Linked DNA regions of Homo sapiens. The protein of the gene in region 1 purifies or fractionates together with the protein of each later gene. This does not show direct contact. Each region holds a gene or a part of one and is shown in the gene's direction. Other genes may lie near its edges.

Region 1 (3,500 bases):
AAGACACCTGAAGGGATGCAGAATTTAGCAGCAAACGCCAAGAACAGCTCTTTGTCATCTCTGCATCTTCTACTAAAGATTTTAAGCTCCGAAGTATATGTCTGGGGTTTCTAGAGATTGCTATTCCCTTATAAGGGAAAAAATACACCCTTATTGTATATTTATTGAGCACCTACAATGTGCCAGGCACCCCAGCTAGGGAGTTTAGATATTTAATCCTCTCAGCTGCCCTGTAAAATAGGGATTGTTTAAAATGGATTTCGCCCACCTTATAGGCAAGGAAACTGAACTACAGTATGGTAAAGTGGCTTGGCTAATCCACCTGGCTAGTGAGAATGGAGCCACAGTGAACCTGGAGGATACTCTTCACGGCGTTCCATCTTTGTGTGCCCCACAGCACAAGCACAATGCCCGGGTCTTAGGAAGAGCTTGGTAAATGACTGCTGAGTTGAGAATGGTAGGATTCATGTACCAAAAGGGCATTTGGAAATGGGCAAATGCCCAGATAGGGCTCTGAAAGACTAGCTATGTAGAGCAACAGATGGCAAATCATCAATTTAAAACTCTGTCATCCAGCCAGTAGCCCGCTGGCCTACAGCCAGCCATGTATGTACAAGGGCTGACTTGATCAGCTGTGGCTCTTTTATTTCAGGCAATCCACCTTCCAAAGAGGTGCCTGCTGGGAAGTACCCATTCATAGTCACTTCTGATGATGGGCGGAAGGTTCCTGTAGTCCAGGCCTATGCTTTTGGCAAATACCTAGGCTATCTGAAGATCGAGTTTGATGAAAGAGGAAACGTCATCTCTTCCCATGGAAATCCCATTCTTCTAAACAGCAGCATTCCTGAAGGTAAGTGAAGTTCAGGGGAATGTTCCACCAATCTAAAATTTAGATGGCTGGATATTTTGCTCCTTCCCATTTTTTTCCTTTAATGTTTCAGGAAAAGACTATAATACTGTTGAAGAATTTAGTTTCTTCCTTGAGTTTGCCCTCTTCATGGATAGATTTAAAACACACCCAAATGCCAAAAGCCCCACTTGCTTCTTCAAGTCTTCTCAGCATCAGATTCCATACATCACTGCTTCCTCTGCCTTTTAAAATCTTGATCCTGACATGCCAAAGCCACTCTCAGCTTGTGTTTACAGGAGAGATAACTGAACTAAAGGGGTTCTAATTGGGCAGAGCGGGGCTCAAGTCCTGGCCCCCCAACTAGAGGCAGTGTGCCTTAGGCAAGTTGCCCAATCTCATGGGCCTCAGTTTCTTTATCAAATGAGGGAGTACCTTATTTATATGTCTGAGTCTATTGCGGGATCTGGCCAGCAGCCCGCAATGCAATGGGGCTCTCTCTTTGTTCCTAGGCAGATTGGCAGGTTGAGAAATAATAGACACACACAAGATAGTGAAAGCTGGGTCCAGGGGGGTCACTGCCTTCTGGTCCTGCGGTGCCAACAATGCACTGGATATACCAGCATTTATTATTAAGTTTAGTGAGGGCAGGGGTACGTTAGTGAGGGATTTAGGGTCATTTGATTATGAGGTGAGATGGTCACATGGGGATGAAGTAATTCTTTAACATAACATTTGTATGTAGAAGTACAGTACATTTGTATGTAGAAGTACAGTATGAGATAAGAATTTACAATATAGTGTGTGCGTCAGTAATTTCTAACAGAGCCTTAGAACAGAAACACAGTCTTTCCATAACCTATGATTAGCAAGATATTAATCAGCAGTAACAATTGCAACAAAAACTGGTTACAAATAATCCATGGAAACAGGACATGAAGCTAGATAACCAGTTAGACCAGAAATTCTCAGAGGGGAGTACGCCTTAACCCTAAAGAGGCCTAGAAGAGCGGCGGCAAGATGAGCGTGTTTATAGCCCTATCTTATCCATATGGACAGGCCCCCCCCATGCGTCCGTTTATAGGCTCCCCACAAGGGTCACATTCCATTCCCAGAGCTATGAACATCTGCTTTTCTGGGATAGGAATCTTGGTGATGGGAAACCTCCCTGACTGCACGTCCATTTGTAGGCTCTCTGCAGGGGGAAGCACATCACGTGCTGTTGGCTCATTGTGGCAGTCCAACCTGGCATTGTCTTTACACAATCCTGCATGCAATTTTGTATTTACAATAATCAGGAGCATTTCATCTTTTATTCCGTAGCAATAGTTTCAGGGCGTCTCCCTACATGAGTCTCAGAGTAAAAATACATTTTTATATCATTGATTTTCATATGTGTACAGAACACACTCCTGTGCTTGTCTCTCACTTTCCCTTTTCTGTTGACTATGATCATGTCAGGAAGATGAGGTGCACAGCACCCAGGTGAGCCTGTAGTCACAACACAGCCCTCTCAGTAGCCAGATGGGAAAGGGGCCCAGGACCACACTGACAGCGATAGCCCAGCTGTACCTCAGCAGGCCTTTTATAACTGCCCCTGGGCCTTTCAGAGCTCCTACCGCCACCACTAATGCTGTCCCAGGTGGGCCAATGGGTAGCTCATACAGATGTGATGAGCTGGTAGATGTTCAGAATATTCTTAAATTAAGATGCATTCCAGGTCTTATTACCAGGAAACAAAATAGAAGTTCCTAAGGAAATTTCATGGTCAAAACCAAAATGCACACAAATATGGTAAACAAATATGTTCTCACAGCAAGTAAGATAGATGATGTTTCATTCCTTTTCCAGAATTTAGCCCAGTGTGAGATTTAATTGTAGGGTACCTTCTTTTCTTTCTTCTAGATCCAAGCATAAAAGCAGACATTAACAAATGGAGGATAAAATTGGATAATTATTCTACCCAGGAATTAGGGAAAACAATTGTCTATCTGGATGGCTCCTCTCAATCATGCCGCTTTAGAGAATGCAACATGGGCAACCTGATTTGTGATGCAATGGTAAGTCATCAGCAGGAGTGGACATATGCTAGGGAGGAAGGAAAGGAAGAGGGAAGAGGAAGGAAGGATGCGAGAAGGGATAGATCGATAGCTACAGAATGAGGGATTTCAAAACATTTTTAGCCAGGGTGGTGGCATGTGCCTATAGTCCCAGCTACTCGGGAGGCTTAGGTGGGAAGATGGCTTGAGCCCAGGAGGCTGCAGTGAGCTATAATTGCACCAGTGCACTCCAGCCTGGGCAAAAGAGCGAGACTCTGTCTCTAAAATTAAATAAATATGAAAAATAAATAAAACATTAGTGCCTAAACAAAAGCCTGATGTAGCTTCATACTCAGTACCTTCTTAAGGTGCTGGAAGGAGATCAGGTAACCACCAACATACTGCTTTACAAGAACTAAAACCTTTATTTTAAGGTGTTCTTAGATGTCTGAATTTTGGATGTTGCTTTCCTTTTGTAAGATGATGCAAATGCACAAACTCTGCTACCCTGGAGATATCAACATAATAGATAAAAGCATATCTGTTTGGCCAGACTGTTTTTCACTCATCTGTTCACTTGACTCCAGAGAACCCTGGCCTTGTGTGACAGGAAC
Region 2 (3,500 bases), on another chromosome or scaffold:
CTGTCAGAAGGGGAGGTAGCTATTGAGGGTTCTCACATGCACAACATCTGGGTTAATGGATAATTTGTAGGGTACATTCTTGATGGAGGAAATTTACTTGTTTTTACTTTATGATTAATGAGACTACCACCCTTCCCTTAATGGATGAGATAATTTTCCTTAAAATCTTTTAGGAGCATTCTTCATGTATGTCAAGTTGTTTTGGAATGTGAGAAGTGTTTCCTAATGGATAGTCTATTTTTAACTCTTCATTAGTATTTTTCGAGATATTCTTGATCTAATATCTTTTGCTGAATCCTCAGTGTCAGTAGTATATATTTTTAATATTAAATGTCTGATTCCATATATGTACATGCTAACCAACTCTTATTTAATCAATATAATATATGCATTTATATTTTATATATGTTTATTTTTTTAAATGGGCAGAAATTGTCCTAGCATTTTATTTTATTTTGAGACAGAGTCTTGCTTTGTTGCCTAGGCTGGAGTGCAATGGCACGATCTTGGTTCACTGCAACCTCCGCTTCCCGGGTTCAAGTGATTCTCGTGCCTCAGCCTCCTGAGTAGCTGGGACTACAGGCACATGCCATCACGCCTGGCTAATTTTTGTATTTTCATCTATACTTGGAATAATTTTCATGAACTTTAAAGTGTAATTATACATATATTTTATCTTTCTTTCAGTGGATTAGGAAATAACCTAATTTGAAAATTGAAATTTAAGTTAGAATGTTCTTAAGGTCTAAAACTTTTTAAGGCAGCTGGATGCTATTTAATGCTGCAGAGTAATAATTTTCTATTTCACAATCTTCAATTCTGTTTTTAAGATCTTAACACAACCACCCTTATTTTGAGGCCAAGGGTTTTGAGTAAATTTATTATGAGCAAGCATTCCTGAGAGTTAAAAATCCTAATGGGACTAGAGTAATGAGTGAGAGTGTCTCTTTTGTGATAGAATTGAATGGGATTTTAAAGTGGGAAAAGCTCCTGCATTTCTATGGCTGAAAAATTGAAGCTTACAGAGGTTGAGTGATTGGCTTAATATTAGATGACTACAACCTAAGTGACTTCATCTGGAGCTCTTTTTAAAAAAAAACAAAAAACAAAACTCTAGAGCTTGTTTACTTATCTGGTGGGTTAGGTAAGAGCAAATTTAGGCATCCCAGAATGTGTGTGTGTATCCTGTTTCATTAATTATTAACTTATTTGATTTGTAAAGAAATCTTAAAGTTTGAGATTTAAAAAACTAGATCCAATAGGTTTTCCCAGTTGTTAATTTTAATTCAAGTAATTTGTTGGCATATTTTTATTGATTTGATAATTTACATTAAACATCATTTTAGCTTATATAAGAATGTACTTACTATAATAAATTCAGCCTGTGAATAAATTTTTAAAAAATCCTTTGAAACAGTTATTAATTACAATGGGTCAAAGTAGTTCTTTAGGATCATGGTATAGTTAGATGTTACTCAGATTTTTTGTTTTTGGTCTGTCAGGGAAAGCAATTATTAACAGCATATGATGAATTTGTCAACATCTATTTGTGTTAACCAAAAGAAAAGCCTGCCACAGTAGCTAAAATGTATCATGTTGTGTGGGGGAGTGAGGAGGGGACTTAATAAATTTAATCCTCTACCAAAACGCAAGTTTTTTTCAGGATTTTACAAATGGACAGCTCTATGAAGTTGAATGAACAATCCTTATACATTGACTATATAGTCACTAGAAATTGCTACTGTATTAGTATTTTTAGTCCAGTGTTTAGTCTGCAGCCCCATTCTGTAAAGATATGGTTTTTCCTCCTAAGTCCTGGGTCTTTTCCTGGCAGACACTGCTTTTCTTCTTGGGCTTCAGATCAAGAGACATCACGTTTCCTTTTCGGGAAGAAGCCCTTAAGGTAGTGCGCCTCTGGTTTAGCTACATCATTGCCTGTGAGGAGGAGAGGGCCAACAGAATTTTTGCCAAACAGTACATGTATTAAGACTCGCTTTCCTGTGTATACTCTGTTTTCAAATCAAATATGTAAGATACAACAGTGTTTTGAAAAATATAAATGGAAACATGGAGTAGAATACATTTGCTCTTAGGAAGTATTTTTTTATTTACAATTTTTTGTTGGATGAATTCATAAATTGAATGTAAATCTTTCTTTTTCTATTTTGTTTTCTGATTCCACAGTCCATGCAGTAACACTGTTTCTAAATATCTTCGGATGCTTGGCTTGGTTTTGTGTTGATTCTGCAAGAGCGGTTGATTTTGGATTGAGTATCCTGTGGTTCTTGCTTTTTACTCCTTGTTCATTTGTCTGTTGGTACAGACCACTTTATGGAGCTTTCAGGTAAAATGTGTGTACTTTAAAATACACTCTTTAAAACCTGTGAAGTAAATAATTCGTAGTATACATTAAAGGGAAAATTGATGCATTTTCATTAAAAAATTCTTGTATTGTTGTGTAACATACCTTCAGGAAAGTTCAATATAGCATGCCTGTGTATTCATTGGATTTTGTAAGTCATAAAATTCCATTTTTTTCTCCCATTTGATAAAAGACCAAACATGAAAATTGATGGAAAAATAAGAACAGTCTTAGAAGTTAATATTTATAAAATATTCTCTTCCATATGTTATACTTCAAGGAAAATTTTGCTGTTTGCCCACCCCACCTCCCAAATCAAAATCCCAATTGGTGCTTATGGTTTTTTTTTTTTTAAATTAACCTAAGTAAGGTAAATATACATGCAATATTTAAAATGAGCCATTTGCACCTAGCAACTTGGATTATTTTCTTTATAAATCCATTTTAGGTTTTTTCAAAGGCAGCACCATTTTAAAAACGATTTATGCTACTAGGTTAAGTATAATGCTTTACATAGTATATTTTAATCAGTGGTTAGGGTTAACATTTCCTTAGCGCATGTTCTGTGGGATATTAATAGGTGCTGGGGGAGAAAAAAAGAGCTCATAAGCTTAGTAAATTTGGGAACAGCTGGATAATAAGGTTAAGCAAGTTTCTTCATTTCAGGATTTCTTACACTCTTTAAGTACCTAGTATGATTTGTGCCTTATGACTTGACCATGCAACCATTATTTTTCTGTGGAGTACTTTGTTGGACTATTGCTTTAAGAAGTATTGGGAAATACTGATTGAAATGATAGTCCTATATGGGTTCATATATTTAATAGTTTTTTTAAACTCATTTTTATTTGAGTAAATTCTTGTGAATAACCATTTCAACTCTCGTGAATAAGGGGTAACATTACTAGGATATATGCGTGTGTTGTTTAAAGGATATATTAGGGAAATTAGAGGCCCACATTTAAGTGTTCAGTATGTTTTGCCATTGCAACCTAAAATCTCTTTAGTTAACCAGAATGTGTAACACACGCGCGCGCGCACACACACACACACACACACACACACACACACACAGAGTTAGAAACCCAGATCTGTAAACAGATGAGGGAAAAACAGAAGAGAACAGGAGATGGGAGAA
Region 3 (3,500 bases), on another chromosome or scaffold:
GCTGGCGTTTGTGTTCAACGCCTTGCCCACTTGAGCCGCCTCCTTTGAGTGGGAAATGGGAAAGGGTTGGTCCGCCCTGGTCTGTGTTTTGGCCAACACCCACCCCCCTTATACACACACACACACACACACACACGCACGCACGCACGCACTACTCTAGGGCCCTGCTCCCTCTGCCTGTTGCCAGGTTCTGAGTGTATTTTTTCCAGAGGCCTCCAATTGTTTCCTGAAGAAACCTGATCCCAGAGCTCAGACAAAAGCTGGGGCCGCCAGAGGAGAAACCCCATTCTCTCCTCCTCTGTCCCTATTGCCCCCACCTCCATAACCTCCCTCCCTTTGGATGCTGGGTATGGGTTCCAGGACCCGGCTGCCATCACCTAGGCAACAGGGGGCTTTTGTTGCCATGGTGATCAATGTGGGAGAAGCTGGGCAGCAGGGACAAAAGCCCCCACATTCCCCCCTGCCAAGCTCCCCCCCAATCCCCTTGGGATGATACTGAGACACATTCCATTAATTTTATTTCTGAAAGGCCTTTGGAGGGGAGAAGGGTCTCCTTTTTGTAACAGGCTCTCTCTTCTCTCCCTCTCTCCTCCCTGGCCTCATTTTAACCCCAGATAATCCATGGTTGGTTTGAGCAGGGGACTGAGTGTGTGTGTTTGTGTCTTGGGAAGTGGGGGGCAAGGTGAAAGGCAGTGGGGCACATTCCTTTTCTATAGCCTCCCCCTTCCCCAGACTAGGGCAGCTCCCTGTCCTGCACCAAGTCCGGACTTCCCTCCCTGTCTCGTCATCCCTCTTGACGTTTCCACTTGTTGATCTCATCCAGCCATCCCCTCCCCCCATCTCTTCCCTGGGAACGCTGCCCACCCAGGGGACCCTCCAAACCCCTGATCCCTGAGACTGATTAAATAAGGGGAACTTCTGCCCTTCTCTTTACTCCCCTCTCCTCCCTCCTCCCAGGCCCCCCAGCAGCAGTGCTTGGATTAGTTCCCTGGTGTACTTGAAGACACAGCAGGCAAGGGTCTCAGAAGTCGGGTTCATTTTTGGCACCTGTGTTTGGTAGGGAGGAGACAAGCGTGTTTTGGTGCTTTTTGGGCACTCTGACTTGGGTTGGCAGGCCAGGGGAGCAGGATTCATGTTGAGTCTTTAGTAAGTAGCAGGGGAGGAAGATAGGGGGCACTAGGCTGGGCAGCTCAGAACAAAAGGGGACTGGTACCCTTGTCTGGTTTGAAATTTATCTGTAGGGGAAATGAAATGGCATCAGTTTACCTTCTGGGTGTGTTTGAAGTGGTGGTTCTGGTTGGTGTGTGTGTGTGTGTGTATGTGTGAGACTTCTTTATTTAGTTGTACTAACAGCAGGGTTTATTTATACCACCTCTTTCCCTAGTCTCAGAGGAAGTGTCTGAGGATTGGAGTATGAGTGATCCTGGAGCTAAAACTTGTTAATTGCTTAACTAATTACTAGCTGAACCATTTATAAAAGCACTTCTTTCACCCTCGTGATCCTTACGGCTACCCCATGAAAAGGCATCATTGTCTTCACTATTTTACTAATGAGCTTACCAGGCTACAAGCACAGAGGTGTTAAGTAACTTGCACATAGTCACACAGCTAGTCAGTGGAAGAGTTAGGTTTTGAACTCAGATCTTTGAGTGCACATCTCTGGCTCTTCTGGCTGTTGGCTTTGGCAGATGATGGGTATACAGGAGGATGAGGAGATGGACAGCCTGGGATCTAGTGTGTGTGTCTAGACTCTAGTCCGTGGCAGTTGTTTACTTCTCCACCCCCTTCTCTACCCCCATGTCACTCTGTGACCCACTCGTTGCCTTTGAGCCTCCTAGCAAAATTCAGTTTTTATGAAGAAGACTAGAAAGAATAGGCTGGAACCACAAGAGAAATGCAGGTCAGATGTCTAAACTATAAGGAGGAGTAGGCCAGTAGAATGGGTCCTCAGGAGAGTGGGTAGATGAGCCCAACATATATTTTTCAGGTAGGGGGATAAATAAGGGTCATTTTTGCTGCAAAGTTTTTTGGAAAGGCTTATGGTTGGGTTAAGGTATTATGTCCCTGTCCTCTAAGTGTGTCCTTATCACGCACGTGCTTTGACATGGGGATACTGACAAATATAACTAATCCTATGGAGGATTGCCTCCATTGAACTCTGTTAAGAAGATGAATGAATAGATTTCACATGCTTTCATCTCCCTACAGTCATTATAGTTTCCCTGAGAGCCAGAGAGGCATACAGTCATGGATGTTTTGGTCAACGATGGACCACATATATGATGGTGGTCCCATAAAATTATACTATTGTATTTTTACTGTACTTTTTCTATGTTTAGGTACACAAGTACTTACCATTGTGTTACAGTTGGCTACAGTGTTCAGTACAGTAACATGCTGTACAGGTTTGTAGCCTGGGAGCAATAGGCTATACCATAAGGCCTATGTGTGTAGTAGGCTATACCGTCAAGGTTTGTGTAGGTACATTCTATGATGTTCCCAGGATGCAGCTGCCTAATGACACATTTCTCAGAAAGTATCCCTGTGGTTAAGCGAGGCATGACTATGTTCATTTACTAGGTTGGTATCAGTTCCTTGCTCTGTGCCCATGGGAGGCGAGATGGATATAAATATGTATCAATCATATTGCTTATTCTCAAATTACTGATGGTTTAGAGTAGTTGGAGTAAAGGTAATGATACAAAGCAAATCCATTTTAGGTTTTTTTTTTTTTTGAGACGGAGTCTCGTTCTGTCGCCCAGGCTGGAGTGTAGTGGCATGATCTCGGCTCACTGCAACCTCCACCTCCCAGGTTCAAGCAGTTCTCTGCCTCAGCCTCCTAAGTAGCTGGGATTACAGGCACCTGCCACCATGCTTTTTAGTAGAGACGGGGTTTCATCATCTTGGCCAGGCTGGTCTTGAACTCCTGACCTCGTGATCCACCCGCCTTGGCCTCCTAAAGTGCTGGGATTACAGGCTGGGATTACCCGGCCCCATTTTAGTTTTTAACATAATCAGCCTCTCAGCAGCATTTGACCTGGTTGACTTAATTCCCACCTCAAAACACTGTTAAATTTCTGGCTGCCTTGAGACCCCACTCTTCTGGCTCCCCTCCTCCTCTGGCCTTCTCATCCCCTTTGCCTGCTCCTTTTCCTCTGGACATGTCTACCTATTGGGGTCCTTTATGTCCATGGAAGAGTTAGGTTTTGAACTCAGCTGGATCTGAGTTCTATCTATCCCCATAGCTTTTCACACACTCAGTACCTCCAGCTCAGACTGTCCTCCAAGTCTGGCTCGTCTGACACCTGGCTGCCTACTGTCTCATGGCCACTAACTTAGCAGGCTAGAAGCTGAACTAATTATCTTCCCTCACAAGGCTGCTTCCTCCCCAGTCTTCCCTACCCTACTGATGGTGCTACCATCTGCTCCCTTGCTCAGGCCGGGGATTCTTAACTCTCCCTTCCCGCTCATTAGGTCCTGTTGATTTGACCACCAACATT
Region 4 (3,500 bases), on another chromosome or scaffold:
TTTTACTGGGTAGATACTGCTGAAGGAAATACAGGGTGCAGATAGTTCAGCTGGTCAATAATCCATGATTCAGGTTGGATAGGGAAAGAAGGGGGGTTAGGAGGGAATGCCTAGGTAGGTCAAAATGTAGGAATCACAGGACTGGAGAAGTCAGAAGTAGAAAAGCAGATTGCTAGGAGAGACAGGATGACAGATTTTGGTCAGAAAATGGGATATTGGAGTTTAAAGTATCAAATACAGAATAGTTCCAGATGTTCAGAGATCCAGCATGGGATTAGGTACTGAAATGGATTAGAACTAAAAGTCACTAGAATTTAGAAATTGAGAACCATGAGAGTGGATGCAATGACTTGTTGCTTGATTGAAAAATAAATTAATAATAATAAAGGACCATGAGACTAGCCTGTTATAGGGGTTATCTCCATGAACATTGAATTTTCCCAGGATCATAGCAGGAATTGGGTAGAGAAAAAGATTATGAGAAGGTGCCAGAGTCTTCAGTGAATGTCAGGAAATTACCAGGAAGTCAGCATATGACAGAGAAAAGGACAGTATGTTATCTGCATCAAAGGAAAATGTGCTTTTGTTGAAAAGTACAGAAAAAGCCAATACTACAATACTGTGCTAAGCCCCTACCTGTACTCCTCTACCCAACAGCTGCATTCCAGGCCCTGTGGTATAAAAGGTGTGAGAATGAGCATCTCCCACCAGAAATCAGACAGGTTTAGTTAAAGCAGTGAGGCAGAACAAGCATCCTATGAAGAGACTGAGGATGTAGGTGAGTGGTTCTAAAATCTCAGTAGAAGGAACATTGCAAGTAGAAAGAGCCAGCAGTAAGGATGCACGTAGCAGTCTAGAAGTAGAGGTGAGACCAGCTTGGAGATGAAATGAGGAGATGTCTTCTGTTCTGTGCTGGAGAAGTACTGGTAAGTGTGGTGTGGTTGGGATTCACAGGCCTCAGCCATCCTCACTTTGGTACAAGTTATTTTGGTACAGAACTACTAGAATGTCCCAAAGGCTGTAGTACAGGAACATTTCTGAAAGGACAAAAGCTGCCATGAATATTGAGAAATTGTATGGTGCCAGGTACAGCCTGGATCTGAGCAAGACTGCTGGATGGTGTGTGGATAGATAGTGAAGGCCCAGATTTGGGAACAGATTGGATCTCAGATATCCAGAGCAGCACTGTAGAATCTAGTTGCATATAATAATGTTTTAAAAAGGGTATCTTAGGCTGGGCACGGTAGCTCCCGCTTGTAGGCCCAGGCCTTTGGGAGGCCAAGGTGGGCAGATCACTTAAGCCCAGGAGTTCAAGACCAGCCTGGGCTGCATGGCGAAACCCCATCTCTATAAAAAATAAAAAAAATAAAAAAAAAATAGCGGGCATGGTGGCATGTACCAGTAGTCCTAGCTACTCAGGAGACTGAGGAGGGTGGATTGCTTGAGCCTGGGGAAGTCAAGGCTGCAGTAAGCCATGATCATGCCACTACACTCCAGCCTGAGTGACAGAGTGAGACCTTGTCGCCAAAAAAAAAAAAAAAAAAAACAGGGCTACCTTACTCTGGAAAAAACACATGTAGCATTGGCTGAATAAAGAAATGGAGCTTCATGATTAAGGACATTTGGAATCAGAGTGCAATAAACTTTTTGTCTTGTAGCTATAACCAGAATGCATGGCTTTGAAAATCACTGCAGCAGTATATATTTAGCATCTGGTCGCTGAATAGCAGTCTCTTGTGACTGAGGATGATTTTCCATGGTTCCTTTTTGTATTCTGAAATGACTAATGGAACCATCTGGGATCAGCAGATTTTAAGTCCCTGAAGGCTGGAAAAGACTTATACTTGGCTTTATAATTCCCCACAAAGTCAGGCCCAGCACCTTGCACTTAAGTGTTTATTGAATAAAAGAGTGACTTGTGTGGAAGTTATTCATTCTGCTTTAGCTGTTTTTGTCATTCATTCCCTTTTAACTCTTGTAGTTTGTTGTGACTTTAACTTTCTTACGCTTTTTTTGTGGAGCTGCTCGATAAATATTTGACATAGGTATTATGTCATTTTATGGCTCATCCAGTGTCACACAAGTAGTAAATGGTAGAGCCAAAACTCAAAATCAATGTCAGTGGATTCTGAAGGTAGGTGCTTTCTGGTACGCTAGAATTAGTACCAGTATAAGAGGCATAGGAGTGATCTTGTTTCCTGAGCGGAAAGCTTTATTTAGCCCTGTGGTCCTACCCACTCATGCAAGGATGCTTCTCTTTCTCGTCTCACATGAGAACCCTGATGACTGAGAGATCAACAGTGTTTCCTCAGGCCCAGCTGCCCTGCCCAGCGTTCCTGCATCCCACTCTCTACAGGCACAATGTTAGTGGAGCATTGTTCCTAGAGTATTCTTCATCTTAGTTGCTTTACCCTTGCTTCATATATTTGTATGTCTCACGTTTCAGATTGCTCTCAAATATCCCTGAAGCACTTTTTTAAAAAAAATTGTGGTGAAATATACATAAAATTCATCATTTTAAACTTTTTAAACTATGATTCTGAATTAATTTAGAATACTTCTGATGTATAAAATGCTATGTAAAATACGATTTTGCTGTTGGCTTCTGTATTAGTTTTTCATTGCTGTATAACAAATTCCTGCAAACTTAGCAGTTTAAAACAGCATACCTTTGTTATCTCACAGTTTCTATGGATCAGGAGTCCAGCCACAGCTTAATTGGGTCCTCTGCTCAGGGTCTCATTGGGCTACAGGCCAGTTGTTGACTGGGTCTGTAGTCTTATCAGAAGCTTAACTGGGGAAAGATCCACTTTCAGGTTTCCTCCGCTGGCAGAATTCATTTCCTCTAAGCTGTAGGACTGAGGTCCCCATTTTCTTGCTGGCTGTCAGCCAGGGACCACATTTAGCTTCTAGGAGCTGCCTGTAGTTGGTCCCTTGCCATGTAGTTCTGTCCATGAGCCTTCTCATAACATGGCAGCTTAGTTCTTTAAAGCCAGCAAGGGAGAGAGTCAGAGAGCAAAGTTTCTGACTCTCAGGGAAGGCCTGGACCCCCTTTAAAAATATACCTGATTAAGTTAGGGCCACCCAACTCAAAATCTACTGATTTGGGACCTTAATTACATCTGCAAAAACCCCTTCACTTTTGTCATATAATCTAATCATGGGAGTGACATCTTGGCGCATTCTGTTGGTTGAAAGCAAGTCTCATAGGTCCCACTCACGCTCAAAGGGAGTGATTACACCTCCCCTTGGTGAGAATGTGGAGTTTGAATACACGGGGTGGGGGGCATTTTAGAGTCTGTGTGCTATGGTTTCCTTTTTTATCCATTTCATAGGGTTTTTTATCAGCAATTGGACACCCTTTCCCCAAAATGATTTTTAATCATGGAAGGAAAAAGAGAACTTGGAATTACCTTGAATTTGAAGAAGAAGAAAATAAACAGTTAGCAGACTCAATGGCTTCTCTGGCATATCTAGTATTTGTACAGGGCATCCATATT

The links. The genes of interacting proteins can lie anywhere in the genome.
Region 2: the proteins of NT5E (region 1) and SCAMP1 purify together in Homo sapiens (affinity purification with mass spectrometry; 3 studies listed by BioGRID and IntAct, with this or other methods). This does not show direct contact.
Region 3: the proteins of NT5E (region 1) and VANGL2 purify together in Homo sapiens (affinity purification with mass spectrometry; 3 studies listed by BioGRID and IntAct, with this or other methods). This does not show direct contact.
Region 4: the proteins of NT5E (region 1) and GLMN purify together in Homo sapiens (affinity purification with mass spectrometry; 3 studies listed by BioGRID and IntAct, with this or other methods). This does not show direct contact.

What each region holds. Positions count from the first base shown.
Region 1 is NC_000006.12:85,484,583-85,488,082, forward strand, and holds part of NT5E (5'-nucleotidase isoform 1 preproprotein), read left to right. Parts: intron 1-652; coding exon 653-850; intron 851-2,752; coding exon 2,753-2,907; intron 2,908-3,500. UniProt on the Homo sapiens protein: Catalyzes the hydrolysis of nucleotide monophosphates, releasing inorganic phosphate and the corresponding nucleoside, with AMP being the preferred substrate. Shows a preference for ribonucleotide monophosphates over their equivalent deoxyribose forms.
Region 2 is NC_000005.10:78,419,617-78,423,116, forward strand, and holds part of SCAMP1 (secretory carrier-associated membrane protein 1), read left to right. Parts: intron 1-2,184; coding exon 2,185-2,344; intron 2,345-3,500. UniProt on the Homo sapiens protein: Functions in post-Golgi recycling pathways. Acts as a recycling carrier to the cell surface.
Region 3 is NC_000001.11:160,410,564-160,414,063, forward strand, and holds part of VANGL2 (vang-like protein 2), read left to right. Parts: intron 1-3,500. UniProt on the Homo sapiens protein: Involved in the control of early morphogenesis and patterning of both axial midline structures and the development of neural plate. Plays a role in the regulation of planar cell polarity, particularly in the orientation of stereociliary bundles in the cochlea.
Region 4 is NC_000001.11:92,271,488-92,274,987, reverse strand, and holds part of GLMN (glomulin), read left to right. Parts: intron 1-3,335; coding exon 3,336-3,500.